2 linked regions of the Homo sapiens genome follow. The protein of the gene in region 2 interacts with the protein of the main gene of each other region in a biochemical or structural test. Each region holds a gene or a part of one and is shown on either strand. Other genes may lie near its edges.

What was found.
Region 1: of the proteins of USP48 (region 2) and GLI1, one has a biochemical effect on the other in vitro, tested with the Homo sapiens proteins (one study listed by BioGRID).

The regions. Positions count from the first base shown.
Region 1 is NC_000012.12:57,453,524-57,465,609, reverse strand, and holds the start of GLI1 (zinc finger protein GLI1), read right to left. Parts: upstream 5,826-12,086; 5' UTR 5,409-5,825; intron 5,334-5,408; exon of another isoform or gene 5,055-5,333; intron 2,868-5,054; exon of another isoform or gene 2,638-2,867; intron 1,946-2,637; 5' UTR 1,919-1,945; coding exon 1,819-1,918; intron 1,612-1,818; coding exon 1,519-1,611; intron 938-1,518; coding exon 742-937; intron 500-741; coding exon 355-499; intron 4-354; coding exon 1-3. Other genes in the region: INHBE (inhibin beta E chain preproprotein), read right to left, coding at 8,762-9,516, 9,776-10,073. UniProt on the Homo sapiens protein: Acts as a transcriptional activator. Binds to the DNA consensus sequence 5'-GACCACCCA-3'. Regulates the transcription of specific genes during normal development.
Region 2 is NC_000001.11:21,780,150-21,788,746, forward strand, and holds the start of USP48 (ubiquitin carboxyl-terminal hydrolase 48), read right to left. Parts: upstream 3,001-8,597; 5' UTR 2,809-3,000; coding exon 2,675-2,808; intron 1-2,674.

The sequences.
Region 1 (12,086 bases), on a different chromosome or scaffold from region 2:
CAGCTTCCCCAGGGGAAGAGGTGACGGTGATGAGGGTGGAAGTAAGCAGAAGGAAGAGGAAACCAAGCCAGGTCTTCCTGCCCTAAGTGCCCCCACCCAAGCAGCTGGAACCTCCTGGGTTTGGAAGGGACTTCCTCCTCAGACTACACTGGTGAATGGGATGGGCAAAAGGTGGGATCCCATTTGGAAGCGTCTGACTCAACTGCAAGGAGTGAACCCCAGCACCCACACCTCTTTACTTTTCTAGTACTGAAAACTTATATCCCTTGTCCTTCCTTCACCTTTCCCCTACAAAATCCACCACCCACCCACCCTGAGCTGAGGGAAATCAGGTAGCAATATGGGGACTCTCACCTGGCAAGTTGGGAAGGGTCCCCGGGACTGAGGATGTGGGATCATCCCACCCCGGGCAGAGTCATGGGGACCACAAGGCTGGACCCCAAAGGAAGGCGAGGGCCCTTTTTGGTGATTCATCTGGGCTGGGAATCCCAGAGATGGGCTGAGGAGGAGAGGAGGCAGTTACTTAAGACAATTAGGAAGTCTCAGGAAGGATTGGGCTATTTGGAGGATTTCTGGAAGACTTGGGATTTGTAGTGGTTGAGGCAGTCCCAGGGAAGTACTGAGGAGAGTTGTCTTTGAAATGACAAGGATTCAAATAGGGTTAGGTAGTTTGAGGGCTTGAGACTTTTAATGGACTTGGGTAGGGGCTTTAGGGGCCTCTTGGCCCGGGGCTGACTGCACCTCATGGTGCCAATGGAGAGATGACCGTAGGAGCCTCCTGGAGATGTGCATCGCGAGTTGATGAAAGCTACGAGGGAGCTGGGTGAGGTGCGGATAACCGTCTGCAGGTCCAGGCTGGCATCCGACAGAGGTGAGATGGACAGTGCCCGCTTCTTGGTCAACTTGACTGCACTCCGGGGAGAAGAAAAGAGTGGGCCTGGGGCAGGAGACAGCGGAGACGGATATGGTAAAGGGGCATGTCTCTCCATGCACCTAACCTATGGGTCCTGACTTGGCAAAACCAATGATACTTGATTCTGCTTTGCCCTATTGATGCTATCTGTGACTTTTTTTTTTTTTTTTTGAGAGACACAGAGTCATGCTCTGTAACCCAGGCTGGAGTGCGTGGCACCATCTTGCCTCACTGCAACCTCTGCGTTCCCAGGTTCAAGTGATTCTCCTGCCTCAGCCTCCCCTGTAATCGGCACTACAGGTGCAAGCCACCACGCCCGGCTAATTTTTGTATTGTTAGTAGAGACAGGGTTTCACCATGTTGGCCTGGCTGGTCTTGAATTCCCGACCTCAAGCGATCTTCCTGCCACGGCTTCCCCACAAAGTGCTGGGATTACAGGCGTGAGCCACCGCGCCCGGCCCCATCTGTGACTTCTTGATGGTGCTCTGACGCCTCACATCTCCAAGCATCTCCTCCTCCAAGTGAGATCCCCTGCCCTCCCACTTTCTCTTTCAGAACAAGTCAGAGAGGGGCAGAAAGGGAAGAGGTGTTGCCTGAGCCCTCACCCTCGGTGCAGCTGTTGGTCTCTCTGGCTGGCCCATAACTGTGGGGGCCGGACATGAGGTTAGCTTGGTGGCAGAAGGGCGGGCCAGACAGTCCTAGAAAAAAGAGACAGCTGGAATGGGAATGGAGGATACATAAACCTCACCTTAAAACCCCAGACATGACCTGATCCCAGATTCCAGGTCCATATGACATGGGGCCTCAAATCCTCCTGTAGATAGGAAACTGGCATGGGGTGGGGGTGGGCCCAAGTGGGAGATCTGCCAAATCCTCAAGGCCCAGGGATTGGTATATACACTGACCTTCTGTCCCCACACTGGGGGCCCCCTGACTGGGGAGGGGCCGGAGACAGCAGGGCTCGCCATAGCTACTGATTGGTGGTGGGGTCATCGAGTTGAACATGGCGTCTCAGAGGAGGGTGTGGGGACACTGCAGAAAGGGAAGGTAGGTATAAAGGTGGAGGAAATAGAGACTGTCAGACAGCAGTCTCAGGCACAGAATCCTGGGCAGAACATCCCTGGTATCCCCCACCCCTCTAAGACATCTGCCACGGAATTCGAGTTGAAAAGAGCATCACTGAGCCGGGCACAGTGGCTCACGCCTGTAATTCCAACGCTTTGAGAGGCTGAGGCGGGAGGATCACCTGAGGTCAGTTGAAGACCAGCCTGGCCAACATGGTGAAACCCCCGTCTCTACAAAAAAACAAAAATTAGCCAGTCATGATGGCGGGTGCCTGTAATCCCAGCTACTCGGAAGGCTGAGGCAGAAGAATCGCTTGAACCTGGGAGGCGGAGGTTTCAGTGAGCCGAGATGGTGCCACTGCACTCCAGCCTGGGTGACAGAGCTAGACTCCGTCTCAAAACAAAAAAAGCATCACTCGCTGAGTGAGGGGAGGGGTAAGGGGAAATGATGTCCCAGAGAGGCAGAGGCAGTCTTGTAGTCTGTGTACTCTGGGGATCTTCTTGGGAACTGGGTGGGAGCTTTGCCTGGGTGGGAGCTTTGCCTGTGTGGTCTGTGTGTAGAAGGCATGTTTTGGACTAATTGTGCCTATATTAACTTCAAGTGATTTTAGTAACATGGACCCTCTAATTCTTCTTGCTGTAACCCTGGGCCGGCTTTGAGGGTGGGATGGGAGAACTCGTGTGATGGATCTGACTTCAAGCACTGGGCGGCTCTGCTAGAGCCCGTTCCCCCTTCCTTCTCGTGCCCCTCCCCAGGGACAGCCCGTGTACAATCTCTGCAGTGTCCAGCAGAGGGAGCCCTAGCCACAGTCCCGACACAGAGCCAGGTGGGGCCAGGAGGGAGCACAAGCCATCTGCCCTCTTAGACAGAAAACAGTGTGGAGGAGGAGGTAAGGTTCCTGAGGGGAGTCTTCTGGGTCTGTTGGGCACAAAGGTGAAAGCTGGTGTTATTCTGGGGTAGTTTAAATCAGGCCCACCTAATCTTTTTGGTCTCTGTTTTGGGGGAACAGGAAAGGAAGTATGAGGGGAGACTCTGAGAGAATGAAAAAAACAATGTGATCCTTATAAAAGCGTAGCGAGGAAGAAGGTGCTGCTGTCCGTTTTTCTTTTCAAACTCCAGTTTTGACTCCATCCCGGGTTTTCCAGTCTCCCGGGAATGAGGGTGGGGTGGGGCGGGATGGGGTGGAGAACCACCGGGAGCGGGCCGGGCCGGCCGGCGCGGTGGGTGATCCCGGGATGCTGGGATTTAGGGTGAGGGCGGGGTGAGATGGGGAGCGGAACCCGGACCCCGCGACCCAGCCCGGCCCGGCAGCCTGGGCTGTACCCTTTTCTAACTCCTCCTTTTCCAACCGAGGTGCGGATCCCGCATCCAAGACCTCCCAACTCGACCTTGGAACTAATGTTGGGGGGCGGGGGGCACAGCTGGTTGGCAGCTGGATGGGGGGACAATTCTCCCGCCTCCTTCCCTCTATGACTCACCCAGGGGAAGGAGGGAAGTTTGCAAATGATCCCCCAAACACTAGAGACTCCCCCAAACTTGCCTACTCAGTCATCTTTCTGCCCCACTGCCTAGCTGCCGAAGAGCCTCCAAGGAAATGGGGCTACACCCCTCCTCGCCCACGCGTTCCACAGCCCACCCATATCTCCCCTTCAGGCTAGTAAAAGGAAAATGTCGCCAACTTTTTTAGCTTCGGTAAAGTTTTTCTGGGGTGTGAGAGTTCGGGATGGGACAGGGAGCTCTAGGGTTCCCCTGCCGGAGCCCTAAACCATCTTCGGTGTCTCCCTGTTTTCCAGCGTCCCCCTCGCACCCCCGCTCCCCAACTCCCAGGAGTCGGCTCCGCCCCCCTACTCCCGGTCCCGCCTTCCCCGCCCCCGTGCCTCCTCGGCCCACCCAAGTCGCCGCCGCAGGCACTGGCTGCAGACGGCTCCGCTCCCCCCACCCGCCCCGGGAGCCCAGTAGAGCGAGCCATAGGGGTGGGGGCTGAGGGGCGGGCCACATTCTTCCCTCCTCCTCTCAGCACATCCGGAAAGCAGGCAGTGGCGCCCAGGGGGGCACTACTGGAGAGTGGGGGTCCCCGTTGGTGGGGTTAGAAAGGGAGAAGAATCCAGAAAGTATAGGGGAGAGAAAGCAGAGAAAGTGACTGGGTCAATAAAATTAGGTGTGTATGGGGAGGAGGAGGGGCCCGGACACCTTAGGTTGCTGGTTATAGCAGCCGGCTTCCCAAGGGTTAACCCCTCCAGACCCCCGGGAACCCCCTGGTGACGTCAAGGGCGGGGATGCCAGGGAGATAATGGTGGAGGGGGAGAGGTCTCTGGACCCCGCCCCCTAGGGAAAACCACACTTATTCCGACCCTTACATATCCCCCGGGAAACCGCCCGCCTTCTCCCTCTACTGGAACGTAAAGACCTATCCTAGAAGACCCCAGCTCTCCAGACCCCTAAAACCCTCAGTCCCCAGGCTCTACGGGGTCCCCTTTCCGTAATCCTGTCCCGAAAGCTAGCTGCCCAGTGCTGATTGTTTCGGGGTCATGGGACCTGAAAGAGGATTCAGAGCGGGGAGCAAGGGCAGGCAGGGTGGTCTGAGCCAGAGGAGGGGCCTCGATCCCCAGCTCCCGTTTGGGCGGGGTGCCAACGGGGATACACAGGCTGGCAGTGGCCAGTGGTCCCGCCCAGCCCCGGTAGGGGTCTCCCTGCGGCTGGCTCCCGCTGCCCCGGTGGTCCTGAGGTCAGAGGGTCAAGACAAGGTCTCCCCGGCTCCTCCTGAGCTCCTTGCCCACAGCCCTTGGGACTCAGGAGTCCAAATTGCATGGGGTCATTCTAGGGCCTTCACTAGACCTTGGACAGCCCCCCCCCGCCCCAGCCCCCTTCCAAGTCCAGAAGACACTCCTTTCCCCTAAAGCACAAGCATCCACTGGCACATCTGTCACAAGACAGGTCAAAGGTTCAAGCCTGGCTGGCCCCTAGTGGCTCTGTTGCCTCCCACACACCCGTCCCCACCCCACCTGGAGCTCCCTCCTTTGCAGTCCCCACCTTTCAGAAACACTGACATCTTCCTACCCCACGCGCAGACACACACCTGGGGTTACCTCTCTACAACGCAGACCTCCAGCTAGCCATCCCTCCAGCCTCTTAAACTTAACCGCATGAAAGTAAGATATTTCTAATATATGGGAGAGGCGGAGACAAAGACCCACGGTTCCCTGAGACAGAGATACACAGACTGACAGAAGAAAAAAAGGGAAGAAAAAGAAGATACAGAGAAAGACACAAGTGAAAAATCTGGAGTTTCTAATGTCTCACCCCAGGCTCTCCCACCCCTATTTTGCCTCTATGTCCCGGGTCTGGGATGAGTCCCTAAGAAGCTGAGCATCCCCTCAGGCCCCCTCCCCCACTGCTCCCAGGTGGTCCCCCGCCTGCCCCCCCTTCTCACCTCTGTCTGGGCGCTGGGCTCGGGATGCGCGGTCCAGGGCTGGAGTCTGGGCTGGGGGGTGTGCGGTGGGGAGGGGGGGCGGAGAGGGCCACGGCAGCGCAGCCTCGATGCCACCCCCACCCCCCCAACCTGGCCCCCAGCCCTCCCGCCGGCCCAGCCCGCCGGGCCGCAAGCCCGGACCACCCGCGAGAAGCGCAAACTTTTTTTTTCCCTTTTGCAAAAACTTTTTCTCTCTCCAGCCGCTGGCGCGCCGCCGCTCTTCCCGCTCGCCCCTCACCTCCCTTCTATTTCCCTCCCTCTTGCCGTTCTGGAGGATGAGGCGGGGTAGCTGGAAGCAAGAGAAGGGGTGCCGGGCTTATTGCACCCCCAGGACCCCCAGGATCCTCCCCCTCCCTTGAGGGACCCTATACTGCTTACGCCCCCCCCCCCGCCCCGGCTGAACACGCTGCTGTTGGTGAGTACTAAATCCCGGCTTGGATTTCTGGATCGGCTGGCCCCAAAGAGGCCCCGACAACCAGATTGAGGAAAATATTGCGGGGCAGGGGGAGAAGTTCAACCGAGAACGATAATAGTGGAGGTAGGGTAGTCGCCTTTGGTTGGTGCTAACTGAGCATTCTGCCATCCTGTGGTTTATCTGCAGGCCTCACCCTTTGGATGGAACTTGCAGCGGCCGGGACAGAGTTGCGGTTTGGGGCAAATCAAGTTGGGTTGGGGGCTCTGGAAGAAGGTGAGGAGTCTATGGAGCATAAAAGCAAGGAGCAGCGGCTGAGGCTCTGGGTGCAGGGTGTGGTTCACGAGGTCACCAAGGAGCCCTGGGACTGAAGCCCCTTTCCCTAGAACCCCGGCTCTACGTCTCGAAGTTCTGGAGGGTGCCGCCCCTCCGCACCACGTCACTGCAGGCTCTAGCTGCTCTTCCAGGCTTTCTGCTCCCTCTGCTGGCCGTTCTCACACATGACACCCGCTCGGAGTCGAAGCAGAAGAGCTGGGGAACTGAAGGAGGAGCCCAGTTGAAGGAGGAGCCCCTCACTAAAGCCCACTTAAAAGCCCAGGAGGTGGATATGTGAGCTCTGAGAAACGGAGAGGCAGAGGTTGCTATGCCCAGCGGTACTGCCTGACAGGGAAGTGCCCTGCCTCTTTAGATTTGCATTGCCATCGTGACCGGATATAAGGGAGGGGCAGCATTTCAGTCTCTGATTTTTATGAGAAAGAGGAGGAAGCATGACAAGGAAAAAGGGCACCCTCTCCCCTTTTTTTCAACCCCACAGGCAGACCTCCCACATCCTAGCTCTGCTTCCAAGAACCACCCCCTTGGGTGTGGAAGGTCAGTGGGTTAACTGTTCAGTCTGAGGGTCAAGGGGGAAAAGAAAAGGTGAAGGTAGGGGGAGATCTGGGACTTTGACCCAGGCTAGTTATCCCCAGAGGGTCAGAGACCCAGCTCAGTCAGACCAGACTAATGGGCACTGAAAAAAAGGCACCCCACACATGCTCCTGTCCCAGCCTCGAGCCCCTTCTTCCAGAGGAGCTATTTATGTATTTATGTATTTATTTATTTTTATTTGGGACGGGGCCTCACTATTTGCCCAGGCTGGAGTGCAGAGGCTATTCACAAGTGTGATCATAGCCTCGAACTCCTGGGTTTAAGCGGTCTTCCGGCCTTAGCCTCCTAAGTAGCTGGGACCACCGGTGCCCAGCAAGAAGAGCTCTCTTAGAACACCTTACTTTCTTCTCCCCACCCAGTTCTATAGACCAGTGAGTCTCAAACTTTTTGGTTTCCTCTATACTCTTAAAAGTCATTAGGTTAGGCACAGTGGCTCAGACCTGTAATCCCAGCACTTTGGGAGGCCAAGGCAGGCGGATCACCTCAAGTCAGGAGTCCGAGACCAGCCTGGCCAACATGGTGAAACCCCATCTCTACTAAAAATACAAAAAATAGCTGGGCATGGTGGCGCAGGCCTGTAGTCCCAGCTACTCAGGAGGCTGAGGCAGGAGAATCGCTTGAACCTGGGAGGTGGAGGTTGCAGTGAGCCGAGATTGTGCCACTGCACTCCAGCCTGGGCGACAGAGCGAGACTCCGTCTCAAAAAAAAAAAAATCATTGAGCTTTTGTTCATATGATTTACATCTATCAATTCACCACATTAGAAATTAAAACTGAAAAAGACTGTAACACAAGACCATACAAGCACACATTCCATTAACAATGATGTCAGAAAGATGATGTAATCACATGTCACACGGCCTCTGGAAAACTCCACAATACAATTTTAAGATAATGAGAATTCAAAAGGCAAATAACATGTTAGTATTATTATGAAAATAGCTTTGACTTTGTGGACACCCCTGAAAAGGGACCTCCCAGAAGCCTACAGAGTACACTTGAAGAACTGTTGCTCTGGACCATCACCCTAACCCTTCTTTATGACTCACATTTGTTGATTTTCTTTCTCCTTTTTATTAAGAAAGTATAAGCCAGGCGCGGTGGCTCACGCCTATAATCTCATCACTTCGGGAGGCCAAGTCGGGTGGATCAAGAGGTCAAGAGATTGAGACCATCCTGGCCAACATGTTGAAACCTCGTTTCTACTAAGAATACAAAAATTAGTGGGCGCCTGTAATCCCAGCTGCTCGGGAGGCTGAGGCAGAAGAATCACTTGAACCCAGGAGACGGAGGTTGCAGTGAGCCAAGATCGTGTCACTGCACTCCAGCCTGGTGACAGAGCGAGACTCGATCTCAAAAAAATAAAAAAGAAGAAAGAAAGTATAAATGCTTGTCTCCCAGTGGGTCCTGTCCCCTGGGAAAAACCAGGGAACTTCTTAGGCTTAGTGCCTCATTTTCCTGACTCCTGTTTCTGGGGGTCCCCTAAGCATCCTCCCTCAGCGCCTTGCCCATCTCCCTCTTGACCTTCCCTTAAGGTACCTCAACAGCCCTTACCCTGGGCCAGCCTGCTTACCCTGCTTCAAGCCTGCTGGACCATCTATCTGCTTCCTCCTCCCCTCACTTGAGGACTTTCTCATCTTGGGAGAGGCTAAGTAATTTTTCTCTGCCTTCCCTCCCTCCCTCCCTAGTCCCTGACATCTTCTCACAGGACTTAGGGCAGGAAATCATGCTTTCTGGGTAGACCCCTTTAGAAGAAACGCTTTACCCATCTCCCAACACATCAGCCAACCTGGAATAAGCCAGAGTCTCAGACAAGAAAGTGCCCATTTGGGTCCCATAGGGGTCAAGTGAGTCATATTGCCAGGTGGTTGTTGGGTTGGGGTGTGGATCAGGAATCTGATGCCTCCAGTCACAGATGCCCTGTGCCTGGGAAACTTCATCTTGGTCTCTTCACTCCAAAGCCCCAGGTCCTCTTGCTAGCTGCAGCCACAGGCCTCCACCACCATATCTGGCACATCCGTCTTGACCACATTGCCATTATGATCCAGGTAGAGGAGAGAGAGGGGCCTTCGGGCAGTAGGGACACAACAGGAGGTACTGGCAGGCCAAGGATTGTTGGCTTTGAGGAGGCTGAAGACGGCAGAATGGAAAGAGGCAGCAATGCCTGGGCTGCCAGCCAGGTGGGGAGGGCACTGCCCACTGCAGTAATTCAGCTGGTACCCCTCGGGCTGCAGTATCCAGTCCCGCCATCCCAGTTCCTGGAAGTCTACGTAATGGTCTCGCCTGCAACATAAGGGGGTCGCAGGCTCACAGGTGGGGGTCCTCCTCCTGGCCCGGCCTGCTCCAGGCTCATTGGCTCGGATCTTAAGCTCTAGGAAGGGCTGCTGGTGTCCTGCTGTGTCCAAGAGCCGCCTCGGTTGTCCAGTAACTGTGCTGTTGCCTTCTAGGGGTCTGCAGTCTAGTTGCAGTTTCAGGACACCAGACTTCTCACCCCTCAAGCCACTAGAGGGCAGAGTTAAGGTATGCCAGCCCAGGTTGGTGATGTGGTGCTCAGCCAGGAGAGTGCGGGACCCTTGGCGCCTCCTCCTTGGTCCCCATCGGAAGATCCTCAAGCAAAGAGTGCCAGGAAGGGTGGGGAGCACGTGCAGCCACAGGCGGGCATGGTACAGGTGGTGGGACCGAGGAGTGGACAGGTGAAAAGTGAGCAGGGAGCTGTAGGCTGAAGTGGAGTCTGCCCGAAAGACAGAAAAGGGAAAGAAAATGTGAGTAGAGATGAAGCTCTCCTCTGAGACTCCCCAAGCCCTGCCCACTGCTCTCCCTCGAACCTACCTCTAGAAAAGTAGAGACTGCTTTGTGTCCTCTGCAACCAGTCCCTGCCCCAGCTCCTCCTTCTCCTGCCACACCCCACTCCCTCTGCTGCTCCTGCCAGGCTCCCCTTCTGCCTCCCTTTCCCTGTCTGCTCTTTGCCTGTTGCTCTCTCCCTCACCCACCTGTGACAGTAGCAAAGCTGATGACCTCCTCCCCATTCCCTGGAGCCACACTCCCTGGCTGTAGTCTCCGGAGGGCTCTGGTCAGCGCTGCCTGGGGTGGAGGATGAGTTATTCTGGGACGACTGGTCAGGTGCAACCCATCCAGGATTTGCTGCTTGGCTAGCTCCAGCACCAGAGCTCGTTCTGCTTGGGGTGCCAGTTTGGAGCCCCCACAGGAGGGACACACAGACCCTGTCCCCTGTGCTCGCACCAGTGCCCACAGCAGCACCAGCCAGAGCTGGACATCAGGGAGCCGCATGCTCCTGGTGAATGGCCCTGGTTCAGGAGCCTCGGATGGCAGTTGCTCCGTCTGTTGAGTCTGATTGCTGGGGGCCAATGAGGGCACAGTGACAGCAGACACCACTGCCACACCTACCCTTGGCCAAGGGTACAGCCACCTGTCTTCTATTGTCTGGGACTCAGGAAGGCTGAAAGTAGATCATCTGATGGATAGCTGTGCTTGACCCTCACAGCTCATGTCTGGCTACTGACCTGGGGCCTCTTTAGAGCCAGCTGCCTGGGTCTTCCAAACCTAGTGGTCAGCCAGCCGACCTACCCTCTGAGTCCCAGGATTGGCCAGCTGTGCTGCCCATCAGGCCCCTGCAGGGGGTGGAGGTCCTCCTCCCCATCAGCTCAGGTTTCACCATCTGGCCATGGTGACTGGGCCTGAAGTAGGGGTATGGGGGTGGGGGGGTGCAATGTGGACACGCATGATGCAAGAAAGAGGATGATTTCACATGCTCAGTCCCCAAGGTCTGGGACTTGGGGGAGGGAACGCCTTATGAGCCAGGTGGGGAAGGGCAATTTTCCCTCATACCTCTAGTCTTTCTAGCTTCACCACTGCTGCAGCAGTTTCCATGAGGCAGCTGTGAGTTCCAGTGGGTATTCCTCTGGGGCCCTTAGGCCAGAAGGAAAATTCTGGTCTCTTTATTTCTAGCACTGGGGCTAGGACAGGGATGAGGGTTTGGGCGGGTAGGAGAATGGAGCCCTCTTGCTCAGGCCCAGGTGGCAGTGCCACGAGGCACAGAAGTCACCCCCTGACCCTGCCTGTGCTGGCCGCCCAGAGTCCAGTTGGCCTGGAGCATGATGTGGAGCATGATGTGGAGGAGGGCCAGAGCCGGCGGGGGTTGGGGCGGGGAACGTGTTCCTGTGATGTCTGGGGAAGCCCAGAGAGGTGGTGGTGGTGGTGATGCAATCTTACACAGGGCAGAGTCCATCAGGACTGTCAGGGGGCATGACACTTGGGAGGGCCTATACCCAGCTGCCACTTCTCTTTCAAGGGACTGTGAGAGTTGCCTAAATTTGGGGCATCCTAGAAGTAGTGCCAGGCCTCCTTTTTTTCTTACATTTTTAAAATTTAAATTTTATTTTATTTTACTGAGGTAAGGTCTCAATCTGTTGTTCAGGCTGGAGTGTAGTGGCACAATCATAGCTCACTGCAGCCTTGAATTCCTGGGCTCAGACAATCCTTCTGCCTCAGCCTCCTTAGTAGTTGGGACTACAGGTGCGCACCACCACACCTGGCTAATTTTTAAATTTCCCACAGAGACAGGGTCTCGCTATGTTGCCCAGGCTGGTCTTGAACTCCTGGGCTCAAGCAATCCACTTGCCTCAGCCTCCTAAAGTGCTGAGGTTACAGGCGTGAGCCACCGCACCACCCTTCAGGCCTGTTAATGGGGGTAGAAAATGGGAGCTCTAAGAGCTTTTGACAACAAAGCAAGGCAAATACAGCAGTCTTGGTTCCCAGTCTCAGCCCTCCTGACCACATTTTCTCACTGTCTTTATTTTATTTTATTTTATTTTATTTTTTGAGGCTGAGTCTCGCTCTGTCGCCCAGGCTGGAGTGCAGTGGCACAATCTCGGCTCACTGCAAGCTCCACCTCCCGGGTTCACACCATTCTTCTGCCTCAGCCTCCCGAGTCGCTGGGACTACAGGTGCCAGCCACCACGCCCGGCTAGTTTTTTGCATTTTTAGTAGAGACGGGGTTTCACTGTGTTAGCCAGGATGGTCTCCATCTCCCGACCTCATGATCTGCCCGCCTCGGCCTCCCAAAGTGCTGGGATTACAGGCATGAGCCACCGCACCTGACCTATTTTTTATTTTATTTTTTATGTTTTTGAGACAGGGTCTTACTCTGTCATCCAGGCTGGAGTGTGGTGGCCTGATCACAGCTCACTGCAGCCTTGACCTCCTGGGTTAAGTGATTCTTCCACCTCAGCTTCCAGAGTAGCTAAGTCTACAGGTGCGTGCCACCACACCAACCACACCACA
Region 2 (8,597 bases):
TAATCAAAATGTCCCTCAACTGATGAATAGATATATAAAATGTGGTATTATCCATAAAATGGAATACTACTCAGCCGTAAGGAATAAAGTAGTGACACATGCGCAGCAGGGATAACCCTTGGAAACATTACGTTAAGTGAAACCAGACACAAATGGCCACGTACTGTATAATTCCATTGCTATGAAATATTAATAGAGAAATCCAGAGACAGAAAGTAGATTAGCAGTTGCCAGGGGCTGGGCGAGGGGGGAAAATGGGAAGTGACTAACAGATGCTCAGTTTCCTTTTAGGATAATGAAAAGTTCTGGAACCAGACAGTGGTGATGGTTGTACAACACTATAAAGGTACTGAAACCCACCGAATTGTGCACTTTAAAATGGTAAACACTGTCATATGTATTTCCCAGGTATTTTTTTAATGAAATGAAGTGCTGAAACATGCTACAACATGGATGACCCTTAAATACATAAGTAAAGGAAATCAGTCACAAAAGTCCACGTATTTTAGGATTCCATTTATATGAAATGTCCAGAATAGGGAAATTTAGAGGCGGAACATACAGGGCATACAGAGCCAAGATAAGATAATTTTTTTTTTTTTTTTTTTTTTGAGACTGAGTCTCGCCCTGTTGCCCAAGCTGGAGTGCAGTGGCGTGATCTCGGCTCACCGCAACCTCCACCTCCCGGGTTCCAGGGTTCTCCTGCCTCAGCCACCCCAGTAGCTGGGATTACAGGCGCCCGCCACCACCCCCGGCTAATTTTTGTATTTTTAGTAGAGACGGGGTTTCACCATGCTGGCCAGGCTGGTCTCGAACTCCTGACCTCGTGATCCGCCCATCTCGGCCTCCCAAAGTGCTGGGATTACAGGCATGAGCCACCGCACCCGGCCTATTCTTTTTTCTTTTAAAATTTTTATTTTAAAAATTTATTTTTTTAAATTTATCCAGCGTCTCACGACGCTGTCTCGAAAAAAAAAAAAGTATCGGCCTGGCGGGCGGTGGCTCACGCCTGTAATGCCAGCACTTTGGGAGGCCAAGGCGGTCAAATTATCTGAGGTCAGGAGTTCGAGACCAGCCTGACCAACATGGAGAAACCCTGTCTCTACTAAAAATACAAAAAATAAAAATAATAAAAAAAAATTAGCCGGGCATGATGGTGCATGCCTGTAATCCCAGCTATTCAGGAGGCTGAGGCAGGAGAATCGCTTGAACCAAGGAGGCAGAGGTTGCAGTGAGCCGAGATCACGCCATTGCACTCTAGCCTGGGCAATAAGAGCGAAACACCGTCTCAATAAATAAATAAATATCAGAAATTGGCCCAGCATGGTGGCTCACGCCTGTAATCCCAGAAGAGGTGGGCAGATCGCTTGAGCCCAGAGCTCGAGACCAGCCTGGCCAACATGGCGAAAACCCGTCTCCACTAAAAATACAAAACTGAGTCGGGCGTGGTGGCCCGTGCCTCTAATCCCAGCTACTCCGGAGGCCGAGGTGGGAGGATCGCTTGAGCCTGGGAAACGGAGGTTGCAGTGAGCCGAGCTCGTGACACTGCACTCCAGCCTGTGTGACAGAGTGAGACCCTGTCTCAAAAACCACCAGAACTATTAGTAGTTTACATTATTTGGTTAGTCTGGAAACTAATTACGTTGAGAAACTGACTGAAGCTTGATTATTTCTATTATACACAGACTTCAAACATTCCAGAACTTACTGTTAAAGTCAGATTTACCCTCCTTGTGAGACAGACGCCCAGAGCTTGGACTTATTCGTTTGCTTTATAGAAACTCCCTAACTTATTTCACTTCTCATACTAGACTTTAAGCTCCAAAGCCAGAGACCATGACTTCCATTCCTTCCGGATCCCCCAGCGGAATGTAAAAACTCCAGAAAGCATTTCCTAAATGCCTGCCGAAAGACGGCTACTGAGCATGCCCGGCTTGGCCAAGTCAATTTCAACAACATTCTGAAACAAAAACTATAGTTCCCGCGTTACAAGGTGGAAAAAAGGGAATAAACGGGAGCAAAGCCTAAGGATTCAATCTATATGAGGGGGTTAAGGAAAGGTAAAGTTCAAGGGCGGCGCAGACGTGAAGGACAGCACTATCACAGCTTAAACTTGGTACTCGGTAAACTGGTGTCGAACCAGAACGACCAAAGAAAGGCTTAAAAAAAATACTAGATTAACGAGTGAGGGAAGGCCAACGGGGGTGCAGGGTATCGATGACGTAGGCTGACCACAGTTTTTTCTAAAGCTGCCCTCTACAAAAATAATACTAAGATGATCAGGCCTTCGGTGTCAACACCAACAAGATACACTGTGATGAAGCTCACTTCCAAAAAGTTCCTTTTTACAAACGAAAGAGCCGTGCTGTGGCCAAGATACCCCAACCATCAACGCTTGCTAAGCTCTCAGCTCCTGCCTTCATCTCCACCGCCATCTTCTGGATGGGAACCCAAACCTTCCTAAAGTGCTTTGGCCAGCATCACCTCCGCGCACAGCCCGGGAAGCCTGCGTTTCCCAGGTCGCGCAGACGGCGCAAAGGGGGAAACTCCACCTCGCTCGGCTCCGCGCCTCCCAAATGCACGCAAAGGGCTGCCGTCTTCCTTTCCCCTACCCCGCCCGGGCTTTCCAAGGTCCGGCGCGAGGAGCCCGCGAGGCGCGGTGCGCGGGCCTCACCTGCACACGCCGCGAATGCAGGGCTCCAGCCAGATGCGGTAAGCGGTCTCGATGTGCTCCTGCGACACCTCCTCGGGCCGCACCGTCTCCGCCCAGCGCCAGGCCGCCTTCTCCAGCTGCAGCCGCGGGGCCATGGCCTTGGCCCCAGGAACGCCTCCCGAGCCAGACCGCCGCAGCCGCCGCCGCGGTCTGCACCGCCGCCCCAATGGGCTTCGCCACCTGCCAGCAAGGAGGACCTGGCGCTCCTTCAGGCAGCTGGCCAGTCAATCACCTGTGCGCGCCACTGCCGCCGCGCCCGCCCGCGCCCGACCCGCACGACCGGCCGCAAAGCGCCGCCGTCGACACCCGACACACCCCGCGCCCGCGGACGTTAAAGGTGGACTCCCCGCCGCGCTGAGCGCATGCGCGTTCCCAGCAGCCTCTGCGCCTCCCGCGCCCCTAACCCGACGGGCTGAGGTAGAGGAAGCGTACGTCCGAGGCGGTCTTGCCACGTCCTCACTGGCACTTCTGGAAAAGCAGCGTCTCAGCCCCCGTTCAGGGCGGCGCACTACGTACCACTACTCTAACAAACCAGTGCCTCGAAAGCTATTTCTTGCCTCCGGTACTTCCCTTTTAACCATGAAGTTTTCACGCTAGAGGCTACTCAACGCACACACAGGCCCGCCCAGACTGTGGAGCGGGACCTGTTTAGAGTAGAAACCGAGTCGCCAAAGAAACCAGTGTTGGCTCTTTAGAGGGAGATTTAACTTGAGCCTAGACCGGTTCCGAACCCCTTTCCCGAGCCCTCCTGACGTCATGGGACCTTCCGGCCTTTTCCCGTGCTAGGGTGGGACTACGTGTCCCGGCATGCCCTGCGTCCTGCCACTGACTGTGAGGCATGCTGGGATTTGTAGTCTTCGAGGTGGGAGTGCTCAGTGCGCCGCAGACTGTGCGGGCGGGGGTCCGAGGTGCCAGGGTGGAGTTTCTCTGGTGCGCAAGGTCATGTTTGCTGTTGGCTCCCTTCTCAAGACTGTTACCTCTATGCCAGGATTTTCTAGTTCCTCTCTAGCTCCTGGTTTAAAACATTTCCTTTCTGCGACTCCTGCCCCAGGACATAAAGAGTAGCTTTATGAGAATTGTTTTGCAAACTGTAAAGAACTCTACTAAAGTGAGGATATTTAAGAATTTTGAATTTGAATTAGAGCTCTGCCAGAATCTAAGCGCTAACTTCTGACTCAGCTGCTTGCCTGCTGGAAAACCTTAGGCTGAATTCTTTAGATAAACATTCACTGGGCCGAGCACCGTGGCTCAAGGATCCAATCCCAGCACTTTGGGAGGCCGAGGTGGGCGGATCACCTGAGGTCAGGAGTTCGAGGCCAGCCTGACCAAAATGGAGAAACCCCGTCTCTACTAAAAATACAAAATTAGCAAGGCGCGGTCGCGCATGCCTGTAATCCCAGCTAGTCGGGAGGCAGAGGCAGGAGAATCGCTTGAACCCGGGAGGCGGAGGTTGTGGTTAGCCGAGATAACGCCATTGCACTCCAGCCTGGGCAACAAGAGTAAAACTCCGTCTCAAAAAAAACAAAAAAATTCGCTGAAGGCAGAAGAAAGTAAGATGTGGTCCCTGCCCTTGGAAGTGGGTTAGGGAGTGAGCGGTAGAAATACAAAGATCCCCATCCCAGTCTTGGGAGGCTTCGGGGTACTTGAGAAAAGGCTTCCCAGAAGTAATTCCGAAGCCCGCTTTTAACGGGTGAGTTGGACTTATCCAGGATAGAAGAAAGACACCATTCCAGAAAAAAAGAAACCACAAGGAGCAAAGGCACAGAAGAGAAAAGCTTGGCGTGAGAGGGCCACAATTTCTGAGACAGGGACAGGTGAGAGTTATGGCTTGAAAGGAAGACCTTGCCGCCGGGCGCGGTGGCTCACGCCTGTAATCCCAGCACTTTGGGAGGCCAAGGCGGGCGGATCACGAGATCAGGAGATCGAGACCATCCTGGCTAACACGGTGAAACCCCCTCTCTACTAAAAATACAAAAAAAATAGCCGGGCGTAGTGGCGGGCGCCTGTAGTCCCAGCTACTCTGGAGGCTGAGGCAGGAGAAGGGCGGGAACCCAGGAGGCGGAGCTTACAGTGAGCGGAGATCGCGCCACTGCCCTCCGGCCTGGGCGACTGAGCGAGACTCTGTCTCCAAAAAAAAAACAAAAACAAAACAAAACAACAATAACAACAACAATAAAACAACAATAACAACAAAAAAAAAAACAAAAAAAGGAAGACCTTTATTCAAAGTACCCACTGAAGATATACAGCTGTTGAGTGCTATAATGGAGATTTGCATTTTGTATAGTGAGGCAGAGAAGACTTTTTTTTTTCCTGAGACGGAGTTTTGCTCTTGTTGCCCAGGCTGGAGTGCAATGGTGTGGTCTGGGCTCACTGCAACCTCCGCCTCCTGGGTTCAAGCGATTCTCCTGCCTCAACCTCCCAAGTAGCTAGGATTACAGGCTTTTGCCACCACGCCCGCCTAATTTTTTTGTATTTTTTAGTAGAGACGGGGTTTCACTATGTTGGTCAGGCTGGTCTCGAACTCCGGACTTCAGGTGATCCGCCCACCTCGGCCTCTCAAAGTGCTGGGATTACAGGTGTGAGCTACCGCGCCTGGCCTCCTCCCCTTTTTAGACCATATAGGGTAACTTCCTGACTTTGCCATGGCATTTGTAACCTGTCATGCACTGGTGGGCATGTCTTTTAGCATGCTAATGTATAATAATTAGCGTATAATAATTAGCATATAATAAGCAGTGAGGACGACCAGAGGTCAGTCTCATGGCCATCTTGGTTTTGGTGGGTTTTAACCAGCTTCTTTACTGCATTCTGTTTTCTCAGCAATGTCTTTATGACCTGTATCTTGTGTAGACCTCCTATCTCATCCTGTGTCTAAGAATGCCTTAGGCCAGGCATGGTGGCTCATGCCTGTAATCCCAGCACTTTAGGAGGCCAAGGTGGGCGGATCACGAGGTCAGGAGTTCGAGATGAGCCTGGCCAACATAGTGAAACCCTGGGTCTACTAAAAATACAAAAATTAGCCAGGCATGGTGGCGGGCACCTGTAATCCCAGCTACTCAGGAGGCTGAGGCAGGACAATTGCTTGAACAGGAGGCGGAGGTTACAGTGAGCCAAGATCGTGGCATTGCACTCCATCCCAGGCGACGGTGGGAAACTCAGGCAAAAAAAATGTCTTCACCTCCTGGGAATGCAGCCCAGTAGGTCTCAGCCTTATTTTACCCAGCCCCCATTCAAGATAGAGTCACTCTGGTTCAAACGCCTTGGACAGAATGAGGACTTGCTACAGCTTGATGATGTTGACCTGACCGGTATATCTTCACCTTTCTGATATTTGACCTTCAAGTCTGGTCACACCCCTTTCCTCAGTATCCACAGCTCCCTGTGTCATCCCTTGCTTCACTTAGCACATGATGAAATTGTGACTATCATTCACCATGAAGACACTACTATATGGCAGTTTTCTAAATTGGATAATTAAATAGAATTTCTACCAAATGAGATAGCAACACCAGAAGAAGGAACAGATTTAGAAAGAAGATGATTTCGGCCAGGCACGGTAGCTCACGCCTGTAATCCAGCACTTTGGGAGGCCGAGGTGGACAGATCATCTGAGGTCAGGAGTTCGAGACCAGCTTGGGCAACATGGTGAAACCCTGTCTCTACAAAAATACAAAAATTTGCCAGGTGTGGTGGTAGGCACCTGTAGTCCCAGCTACTCAGAAGGCTGAAGTGGAGGGATTGCTTGAGCCCAGGAGGTCGAGGTTGCAGTGAGCAGAGATCTCACCACTGCACTCCAGTCTGGGCGACAGAGGGAGACCCTGTCTCAAAAACAAACAAACAAAACCCAAATGTGCTAATTTGCTGTAATTTCTCTGAAGTTTAACAAACCCTCTCTTGACTCCCACATCCCCCTCCAGCTACTGTCCCATTTCTCTTTTTCCCTTTATAGCAAAACTCCTGGAAAGCATTTTCTGTACTCTTCTCCAGTTCTCCTCCTATTCCTCCTTAAACCTCCCAAATCAGGTTCTTGCCTCTATCACCTCCAAAACTGCTCGTATGAAGAATGCCAATGGCCTTCACCTTGTTAAATGCAGTGGTAAACTCATACTCTATTTATTTTACTAGACCTGTTAGCAGCAATTGACCCAGTTATTCACTCTTTCCTCTTAGAAACACTTTCTTCTCTTAAATCACAGGGTGCCACACTCTCCTGGTTTTCTCTTTACTGCTGGCCATCCCTTCCGGTGTCCTTTGCAGCTTCTTTCTCCTCTAACCTGGAAACTTGAGTGGCCTAGGGTTCAGTCCTTTGGACCTCTCCTTTAACTTTGTTTACTCCCTGGGGGATCTTGTTAGAAATGCTTGTTCCCCAGTGCCGTAAAGAAGTAGCACTTACGGCCGGGCGCGGTGGCTCACACCTGTAATCCCAGCACTTTGGGAGGCCGAGGCAGGCAGATCATGAGGTCAAGAGATCAAGACCATCCTGGCCAACATGGTGAAACCCCGTCTCTACAAAAAATACAAAAAATTAGCTGGGCATGGTGGCACACGCCTGTAGTCCTAGCTACTCAGGAGGCTGAGGCAGGAGAATCGCTTGAACCTGGGAGGCAGCGGTTGCAGGGAGCCAAGATTGTGCCACTGCACTCCAGCCTGGCGACAGAGCGAGACTTCATCTAAAAAAAAAACAACAAAAAACAAATAGCACTTGAACATAAATTTAACATCCTCAGCAAGGCCATTTTTACTTTCTGCAGAAAGGGTACACTCGCCAGCAGTTTTGCCAGTAGAGTACACTGAACAAACAGGACAGGGTCATTTATAACCTGAAGCGTCCACCCTACTGCTGTGTCTGACTTCCATTGGCTGGAACAGGACCTCACATTCTATATTTGTCCTGATTGGCTAGCAACTTAGAACTTTTTAAAAGAGGCAAAGGCTGGCTGGGTGCAGTGGCTCACACCTGTAATCCCAGCACTTTGGGAGGCTGAGGGGGGCGGATCACCTGAGGTCAGGAGTTCGAGACCAGCCTGACCAACATGGAGAAACCCTGCCTCTACTAAAAATGCAAAAAAAAATTAGCCGGGCGTGGTGGCGCATGTCTGTAATCCCAGCTATCGGGAGGCTGAGGCAGGAGAATCGCTTGAACCTGGGAGGTGGAGGTTGCGGTGAGCCAAGATCATGCATTGCACTCCAGCTTGGGCAACAAGAGTGAAATTCTGTCTCAAAAAAAAGGAAAAAAAAAAGCAGAGGCAGAGGCGAACAAGGGAAGTAACCTGTGGAATGCTGAGAAAGGTAAAAACACCTTTAAATAAGGAAGAGGAACAGGCTATGACTCATGCTTGCTTGGACCAGTGTAAGCATGCCAGGGCAAATATTTAGGCTAAATTGTGGGAGCTAAGAACATAAAGTACATTGATTTCTTTATTACGGCTAGCAGATATTTAAGAATGTTAGCACAGGTCTTTGAATACATTTTGAGACGGAGTTTCACTCTTGTTGCCCAGGCTGGATGGCGCAATCTCCGCTCACCACAACCTCTGCCTCCCGGGTTCAGGCGATTCTCCTGCCTTAGCCACCCGAGTAGCTGGGATTACAGGCATGTGCCACCATGCCCGGCCAATTTTGTATTTTTTTAGTAGAGACGGGATTTCTCCACATTGGTCAGGCTGGTCTTGCACTCCTGACCTCAGGTGATCCGCCCACCTCAGCCTCCCAAAGTGCTAGGATTACAGGCGTGAGCCACCACGCCTGGGCTGAGAAGTAACTATTTATTCCTAATTAGATGGGGAGGAAAGTCTCTTTGAAGAGGAATCTCTACTTTACTTTTTACAATCTCATCTCCTCCTGCTGTGTGTGGATGACTCCTAAATTCACATCTCCAGAC